Regions from separate parts of the Homo sapiens genome. Here region 1 is linked to region 2. The links come from fine-mapping of genetic effects on gene expression. A gene starts in region 2. The other region holds a variant in brackets. All regions are shown on one strand. Distances are from middle to middle.

What was found. PIP is the estimated chance that this variant, and not a neighbour inherited with it, causes the effect.
Region 1: its variant is the best candidate, but not a certain one, in a credible set for the expression of MMEL1 in whole blood (TOPMed, PIP 0.66).

The regions. Positions count from the first base shown.
Region 1 is chr1:2,590,520-2,594,634 of GRCh38, reverse strand. It overlaps PRXL2B (peroxiredoxin like 2B), which reads right to left. Exons shown (of 7, transcript NM_152371.5): 7 at 3,167-4,115. It overlaps MMEL1 (membrane metalloendopeptidase like 1), which reads left to right. Exons shown (of 24, transcript NM_033467.4): 18 at 192-250; 19 at 702-821; 20 at 1,669-1,802; 21 at 1,915-1,980; 22 at 2,608-2,703; 23 at 3,002-3,078; 24 at 3,546-3,996. The coding sequence ends at 3,645. Among named protein-coding and RNA genes, the nearest start is that of PRXL2B, 5.8 kb to the right of the region's middle. The variant G/A (reference allele first, on the strand shown) is at 1,832.
Region 2 is chr1:2,630,558-2,634,957 of GRCh38, reverse strand. It overlaps MMEL1 (membrane metalloendopeptidase like 1), which reads left to right and starts at 1,942. Exons shown (of 24, transcript NM_033467.4): 1 at 1,942-2,092. MMEL1-AS1 (MMEL1 antisense RNA 1) reads right to left here. Exons shown (of 3, transcript NR_183343.1): 2 at 2,283-2,456. RefSeq lists an enhancer at 3,712-4,212.

The sequences.
Region 1 (4,115 bases), 40 kb after region 2:
CCATCACCCTCTGCTTTCTGGGGCCCAAGTCGCCTCCTCCTCAGGGACCCCAGGAAGGAACCAGATCTTGGGATAGGCCTGGGCCCTTGCTCTGGTGTGGCCAGGGTAGGCCCTGGTCCATCAAGGCAGAGAGAGCCCAGAGGGAGGGTCCCCGGAGAGGCGGCTCCCAGAGACCGGCTTGTCTATCACAGCTGGATCATCGGGGCGGCGGTGGTCAATGCGTTCTACTCCCCAAACCGAAACCAGATTGGTAAGTTCCTCCCCCTCCCTGCCTGCCCAGGCCCTTTGGTGCCAGAGTTGAAGGGGTGGCTTGCAGCCCCCTGCCCATCCCTTCCTCCTGGGGGCACCCCAGCCTGTTCTTGGAACATTCTCCTATGTCACCCCTTGCTGCCCCCGTGGGGAACACTCACTCCCGTGCCCATGAGCGGCTTCGGGAGGGACTTGGCAGGCGGCCCAGAGCCTTTCCTGCAGGCAGAACAGGATGGTGGGAGGAGGCCGGACTGAGGTCCTGGGTCTGCCAGGCACGAGCCCGCCCAGCCTCTGAACCTCCGTGTCTTCATCTGTAAATTGAGGGAATCCTGACCTCTGCCTCCCGGTCTGTGGGATCAAGTGTCAGAACCCCTGGCAGCGCCATCCCTGAGCCTGGCACACAGGAGATGTGTCCACTCACAGCTTATTCTTTGTCCCGCCCTTGGGGACAGTATTCCCTGCCGGGATCCTCCAGCCCCCCTTCTTCAGCAAGGAGCAGCCACAGGCCTTGAACTTTGGAGGCATTGGGATGGTGATCGGGCACGAGATCACGCACGGCTTTGACGACAATGGTGAGCGGCCGCCCCTCCAATCACACACGCCCTCCCCTCTCCGCGGAGAAGCAGCCAGGAAGGGGCCTGGGGGCGCTCCATTCAACCCCTTCACGGTTTCAGTGGGGACACCGAGGCCAGGTCCTCAGGGAGCTGTGGGGGCAGAGCAGGCTTTGAATGCCAGGCTGGGGCCCTGTCTGGGGGCACTGACTCCCAGCATGGAGGAGGGGACCCAGGGACTCCAGCCCATGACCCTGACTCCACCTGGCACTGGGCACTTCCCTCCCACGGCCTGTGACATGGGGACGACAACACTGCCCAATACAGCAGCGAAGCCCAGATCCCAGCCTGGGAGACTCTCCAGACGGCCAGCATCCTCCACCGGGGGGTGTGCTACCCCCGCCATGGCCATGCTGACCTCCGCCCCTCGGTGGGGACTGCCCTGCCTGGGACAGGGGCCCCAGCTGGTTTTCCCCTGTGGCTCGGCCATCCGGACCTTCCGTGGGCAGTCCTTGTCCCCAGGGACCACGTACTCCTCTCGCCTGGAACTTAGAGTTTGGGCATCCCAGGAGGAGCCCTTAAACCATGATGCCTCCAAGACCACAGGACCCAGGTGCTAGGCCCTAGCCTCAGGGGGTGGCATGGGAGACCACTGAAGCCCTCCTTCTCTGGGGGCTGTGTAGCCCCAGACAGCTGCTGCCCCTTGGAGCCCGCGATGCTCTTCCAGGCTCAGCCTACTCAGACTGTGGGCTCTCCGTACTGGGGCTGGCTGCAGGAGGGGCAGGAGCGGCCAGGCACAGTGGCTGCCGTGGGGCCAGGCACAGTGCAGCCAGGGGCATGTGGGCAGCCCTCCTCTGCCCCTGCCCAGGCCGGAACTTCGACAAGAATGGCAACATGATGGATTGGTGGAGTAACTTCTCCACCCAGCACTTCCGGGAGCAGTCAGAGTGCATGATCTACCAGTACGGCAACTACTCCTGGGACCTGGCAGACGAACAGAACGTGAGCGCTGCCACCAGCACCCAGGCTGC[G/A]GGGGTACCGGAGCCCCAGCCCTGGCCCTGAGGGAGAGGGAAGTCAGGGCCGGGGCTGCCCCAATCCTGTCTCCTGTGCGCAGGTGAACGGATTCAACACCCTTGGGGAAAACATTGCTGACAACGGAGGGGTGCGGCAAGCCTATAAGGTGGGGCCTGGCAGGGGAGGGGGCGTCAGCGCGGCAGGGGAGGGGGCGTCAGCGCGGCAGGGGAGGGGGTGCCAGTGCATCAGGGGAGGGGGCGCCAGCACGGCAGGGGAGGGGGCATCAGCGCGGCAGGGGAGGGGGCGTCAGCGCGGCAGGGGAGGGGGCGTCAGCGCGGCAGGGGAGGGGGCGCCAGCACGGCAGGGGAGGGGGCGTCAGCATGGCAGGGGAGGGGGCGCCAGTGCATCAGGGGAGGGGGCATCAGCGCGGCAGGGGAGGGGGTGCCAGCACAGCAGGGGAGGGGGCGTCAGCATGGCAGGGGAGGGGGGGCATCAGCGCTGCAGGGGAGGGGGGCACCAGTGCCTCAGGGGAGGGGGCGTCAGGGGCTCATTCGGGACAGGTGGTGTGCAGTGGGCTGTCTGGCCAGGGATCCCCCCCCGAGGGCCCAGCTCAGGGGTCCCTGAGTGACTGAGGTGGTGAGCGCTCATCCGTGGGGTGTGTGAAGGGCCCTTGCAGCAGCAGGACCCCCACAGGGGTAGGTCCTGGAGCCAGACCTCTGCTCTGCCCTGAGATCTGAGGGTTCTGGAGTCCAGGCTGGCAGGCCTGAGCTCAGCTCCTGTCTGGTGCCTGCAGGCCTACCTCAAGTGGATGGCAGAGGGTGGCAAGGACCAGCAGCTGCCCGGCCTGGATCTCACCCATGAGCAGCTCTTCTTCATCAACTATGCCCAGGTGGCAGCCGCAGTCCTGGTCCCACCATCCCCATGCTTCCCCACTCATCTCTGGAGGGCCCACTCTGGGGCACCTCCAGGGACCAGAGCCCAGCATGGAAGGCCCCTTGGGGGAAAAGCATGAGGGGCAGGGGGCGGGAGCTGGACAGGATTTCAATGCTGATGGGAGGAGGGGAGCACCTGCTGACTCCCCTCACCCCACCCTAGAAGGGGCAGCCTGGGGATAGTGGAGACCCTCCCCCACCCCTCCTGGCCACCCCACCACGCCACCTGTAGCCACGCCCCCAACATGCCCACAGGTGTGGTGCGGGTCCTACCGGCCCGAGTTCGCCATCCAATCCATCAAGACAGACGTCCACAGTCCCCTGAAGTACAGGCAAGTCTCCCATGCTCACAACCCCCTTGCCACCCACAACCCCCTCACCCCCACCCCAGTGGCCTGTAAAAGAAGAAAGCACAAAAAGTGGCTCAACAGAGACAGGTTTATTTTGGGAATAAACCTGAGAGGGGCTTCTGGCCGATTTCGGTCAGGGACATTCTCTTACAGACTAAGGGCATTTAAGGGTTTAGGAAGGGGGAGCCTACCGCAGGCTGCGAATGTTTCTGTGTGAAGGAGAGTTTTATTGCAGAGTTGGAATATCTCTGGCTGGAGGGGAGGTTATTCTCAGGATTGGCATGTTTCTGGTCAGATGGGGGTTTATCTCATGGTTGAAATGTTTCTGCTCATACTGACATGAGCCATTAGGCTGATGTTTTGGGCTGGTTTTTAATCACGGAGAACTTAAAATGGCCATGTTTGTCCAAGATGGCAATGCTCCTGCTGTCACACCCACCCACCCACAGGGTACTGGGGTCGCTGCAGAACCTGGCCGCCTTCGCAGACACGTTCCACTGTGCCCGGGGCACCCCCATGCACCCCAAGGAGCGATGCCGCGTGTGGTAGCCAAGGCCCTGCCGCGCTGTGCGGCCCACGCCCACCCGCTGCTCGGAGGCATCTGTGCGAAGGTGCAGCTAGCGGCGACCCAGTGTACGTCCCGCCCCGGCCAACCATGCCAAGCCTGCCTGCCAGGCCTCTGCGCCTGGCCTAGGGTGCAGCCACCTGCCTGACACCCAGGGATGAGCAGTGTCCAGTGCAGTACCTGGACCGGAGCCCCCTCCACAGACACCCGCGGGGCTCAGTGCCCCCGTCACAGCTCTGTAGAGACAATCAACTGTGTCCTGCCCACCCTCCAAGGTGCATTGTCTTCCAGTATCTACAGCTTCAGACTTGAGCTAAGTAAATGCTTCAAAGAAATCAGAGGCCTTGCTTGTCTGGGAGGGACCAGGGTGGGTAAACAGGTAGCAGTGGTCTTGGGCAAAACAGCTGCCCGGGGGTGGGAGAGAGTGACAGCTGGGAGCTGATGGGGAGGGAGC
Region 2 (4,400 bases):
AGTGTTTGGGGGCATGGTCTATGTGGGTGTTGGGATGGTCTGTGTGGGTGTTTGGGGGGACAGTCTGTGTGGGTGTTTGGGGGCATGGTCTGTGTGGGTGTTGGGGGGATGGTCTGTGTAGGTATCTGGGGGGACAGTTTATTCTGTGTAGGTTGTCTGGGGGGATGGTCTGTGCGGGTGTCTGGGGGGATGGTCTGTGTGGGTGTCTGGGGGGATGGTCTGTGTGGGTGTCTGGGGGGATGGTCTGTGTGGGTGTCTGGGGGGACGGTCTGTGCGGGTGTCTGGGGAGAGAGTCATCTGTGCAGGTGTTTGGGGCGGCTGGGTTGCACTGCCCTGGGCACCTGCAAATCTGTGAGTGTCCAGTGACCGGGGTAGGTCTCGGGGTCTGCAGCCTCCTTGGCCTTTAGCCTCCTTTCCCAGTTTCTCTTGTCTGGCAGGTGCCAGGCTAGGACCCAAGCCTCCTGCTGTCACCTAGAAGTAGGGAGAACCTGGGAATAAGGGGTCCCAAGTTTGGCAGCCCAGGTCACCAGGTGGCCTTGGGCCAGGCTGGGGGCTGCTGGGCTGGACAGGCCTGGGGTTCGGGAAGGAGGAGCATGCACAGGGCCAGCCTTGGGGAGTCGGTTCAGAGTCCAGGGAGCCCCTGCTGAGAGTAGGCCAGGCCCCTGCATCTGTTTCTCCCTCTGTGGATTTGTACCTTAGAGACAAGAACACTGTGACATCCAGAAAGGGCCTGCTGGCACCAGGGCTGTCGGGCAGGTGGGCTCGGAAAGGCTCTGGCCTCTCCCCATAGCAGGAGCCTCCAGCCAGGCTGGACCCTGGCCCACTCCCAGCTCCCCAGAAAGGGCGGTCCCAGCTTCCTGCTTGGCTGGCCTTGACATTGTTTCCATTTGGGCCAGCAACCCAGGCAGCCTGAGGCCAGACTGCAGCTCCTGGGCTGGTTGCTGGGCGTGATGGCAGGGGGCTGCTAGGACAGCCAGCGGGCCCCAGGGAGAGACTTCCCGGGCTCAGGGTGGTGTCTGGGATCTGATCCCAGCCTGGCTGCAGCTCGAAGCCTTTCTCCTCCCAGGGCCTGGCCAACCTAAAGGGCCATAGACAAAGCTTCCAACAGCACTCAGCGTGGGAGACCTGGCCGGGGCGGCCGTGAGGAGCAGTTTGCCGTGGGACCCCTAGCTCTGTGGCCCAGCCCTGCCCAGATGCCCTGACACATGCCCAAGGCCTGGGCAGGAGGACTCGTTCTGGGGATTCTGAAACAGAAGCTAGAAACCTCATCAGGCCTGGAGAATCAGACAGAGACTGCTCTGCCCAGAACCCCCGTCCGCAAGCAGGGCTGGGTGCAGGGCTCACACTCTGATCACTGCGAACCCTTCAGAAGCCACAGAGCCCTTCTGCCAGCTCCCCGGCCAGGGCTGCCCACCCTCTGTAGCTTGAGGTCTGAACCTCATGAGTTTTCTGTGGGCAGAGGGAAGCAGCCAAACCCAGGCTAGTATCTCTGGGTGGGACCCTCCTGGCAGCCAGCGCCCACCCCCTTCAGGACCACCCCTTCCCCTTGCACCTTGGCAAGATCCCCAGAACCCACCATCCTCCTTGGAGATTGAAGAGAAAGAACACCCAGGGTGGGGCCTTTGTAACCCCCCACCGGGTGGTTAGGGGCAGAGCAGAGGGTGTGGAGTAGGACAAGGGCCTGACCTTCCTCCCAGCAGCCCCTGGGGCCCCTTTGGACTGAAAGGTCAGGAGACAGAAGCAAGGAAGGAGGGCGGCTTGGGAGGCGGGGCCAGAGGCCCTGAGAAGGGCACCCATGAGGCAGGGCAGCCCGGGTGCCAAGAAGCTGCCCTCAGCCCCTCCCCCCATGCCACACCCCCAGTGGAACCTCCTGACTGTGAGCAGGAGTCACCGCCTCCAGGGAGCCCATGCCTGCATCACAAAGGAGGCCCAGAAGCCTTCAGGCAGCCTCAACTCAGCCCCAAGCCACTGCTCTCCCATCCCAGTCCCTGGAAATCCACCCACTTGGCCCAGCTCACCCCAACTCCAACCCACTGGGACCCAGTCTCCAGGGGCCTGACTGTGGGCGGCAGCCACTCCTGAGTGAGCAAAGGTGAGTTGTGCTGAAGGAAGGTACCCGGCCTGCTTTCCTGGGCCTTGAAACCCTCTCCAGGCCCTCTCCTGGGCCTTGAAACCCTCTCCAGGCGCTCAGCCCCTTTCTCAGGAGGCTGGGCAGGGCGTCCTGTGTGCAGTCTCGCCTGTGCCAGGGCAGGCAGCCCCCTCTGGCATACGGTTTATCTTACCCAAAGGACCCGCTGTCCCCCATCTGTAGTAACCTGGAGAGGCCACGAGTGTCCCCAGGGAGCCGCAGTGCCTTCGCCTCAGCAGACACTCCACACCTGCCCCGGGTACTTGGCTCAATTTGAAGGTGTTTATTTTGTGTGTGCCGTGGGGCACATGGAGCCGTCTGTGGATACCTGCAGGACAGAATGAATTCAGGACGCAGGAGCAGATTCATTAATTCTGACCAAAGAAAGAAGTTCGTGGAAGCTGAGCTCAGACTTGTCCAAATGATTGATCCATTCATTCATCATTCATTCATTCATTCACCCAACAGATAATGACCGAGGTCTCTGGGGTGGGGGTGCCAGTCTAGGTGAAGCGGCCCCCACAGAGGGTGCCCCTGCCCGTGGAGCTGACGTTCCCAGGGGGCTGCAGAAGTATCGAGGAGATGTGGAGGTGGAGCTGGGAGTCCCTGGAGAGACACAGAGCAGGGGAGGGGCTGGGGCTCCCCGAGTTGAACCCGAGGCCGAGCCAAGGAAGGCCCCACTGGGAAGGGGAGCTTGGCAGGAATCTGGGAGGCCTGCCTGGGTGGGTGGGGAGGGTGGGGGGAGAAACCTGGTGGGCCTGCCTGAGGGTAAGGGGAGGGCATAGTGAGAGGGGAGGAGGGCCAAAGAGGGTCCTGACATCAGGGCAAGGCCCGGCTCTTCCTCCAAGGGTTTGGCTACCAGGGGCCAGGGAGTGACGGCCTCTGATTCTAGTTACAGGCCCCTGGGCCCCTGTGGTGGGGATCAGTGGGTGAGACAGACCCCTCAGGGGGAGGTGATTGGTGGGGCCTGGAACAGGCAGCGAGTGGCAGGAATGAGAAAGGGTCCGACTGAGATGGGCTTGGAGGCTGAGGACTGGCGCGGGGTGTGGACGCAGGCAAGGGAGGCAGATGGCTCCAAAGTCCAGCTTCAGCCAGTGGCGGGATAGGGGTGTCTAGGGGCACAGCAGAGGGCGTCAAAGGAAGCATCTGAGGGTGTGTGGATGCATGAACGCTGCGGTTCACAGAGCCAGGGACTGAGAGAGGTGGCTGAGGGGACAGGAAGGGAGGAGCGAGGGACCTGGAGGAGAGGAGTGAGGTCCAGGTCCCCGTCCCCGCTCCTCACACAGCCAGAGGTCAGGGATCTCTGGAGGAGTCGCTGAAATGAGCTGGCCCAGCCACCTTTGCAGGGTGTTGCCCAGACAGGCTAAGGGACATCTAGGATCTCCCAGGGAGTCAGGGACAGAACTCAGGCAAAGTCCACAGCAGGGGGGCGGTGGGGTACAGGGGGGCGGAAGCACATTTAGCCCAGGTGCTGGCAGTCTCAGCAGCCAGTCCCTGACCCACCCACAGGCAGGACTGGGCCTGGCTTCCTTTCGCTGCTCCCACATTATCCGCCCTGCCTGGTACAGGGCTAAGCTGGGGCTCAGCACAGCAGGTGTGTGATTGCGTGTGACGACTGAAAGTGCTGGAAGGCCAAAGCACCCAGCCGCTTCCCTAGGACCGGGCAACTTCCCAGCAGGGCTCCGAGTGCCAGCGAGGGATGTGCACATCCATGCATGTGCTCACATATGTGCACACACACACAGACATGCACAGCCACACACCAGAGCACACGCACACACGTGCACACCCACACACACAATCATGCACATGCACATGAGCGCACACGCACAGGTGCACAATCACAGTCACACACGTGCACACACGAGCGTACACGCACACACGTGCATATCCACGCACACAATCATGCACATGCACACACAAGAGCACACGCACACAATGCACAGTCACACACATGCACACACGAGAGTACACGCACACAGGTGCATATCCACGCACATAATCATGCACACGCACACACGAGAGGACACACGTGCACACTCAGGCACACACGTGCATATCCACATAATGCACATGCACACATGAGAGCACACGCACACGTGCACAATCACACAGTCACACACGTGCACACACGAGTGTACACGCACACACGTGCATATCCGCACACATAATCATGCACACGCACACACGCGAGCACAGGCACACACGTGCAGTCACACACATGCACACACGAGGACACACACGTGCACACTCACTCACAGTCACACACATG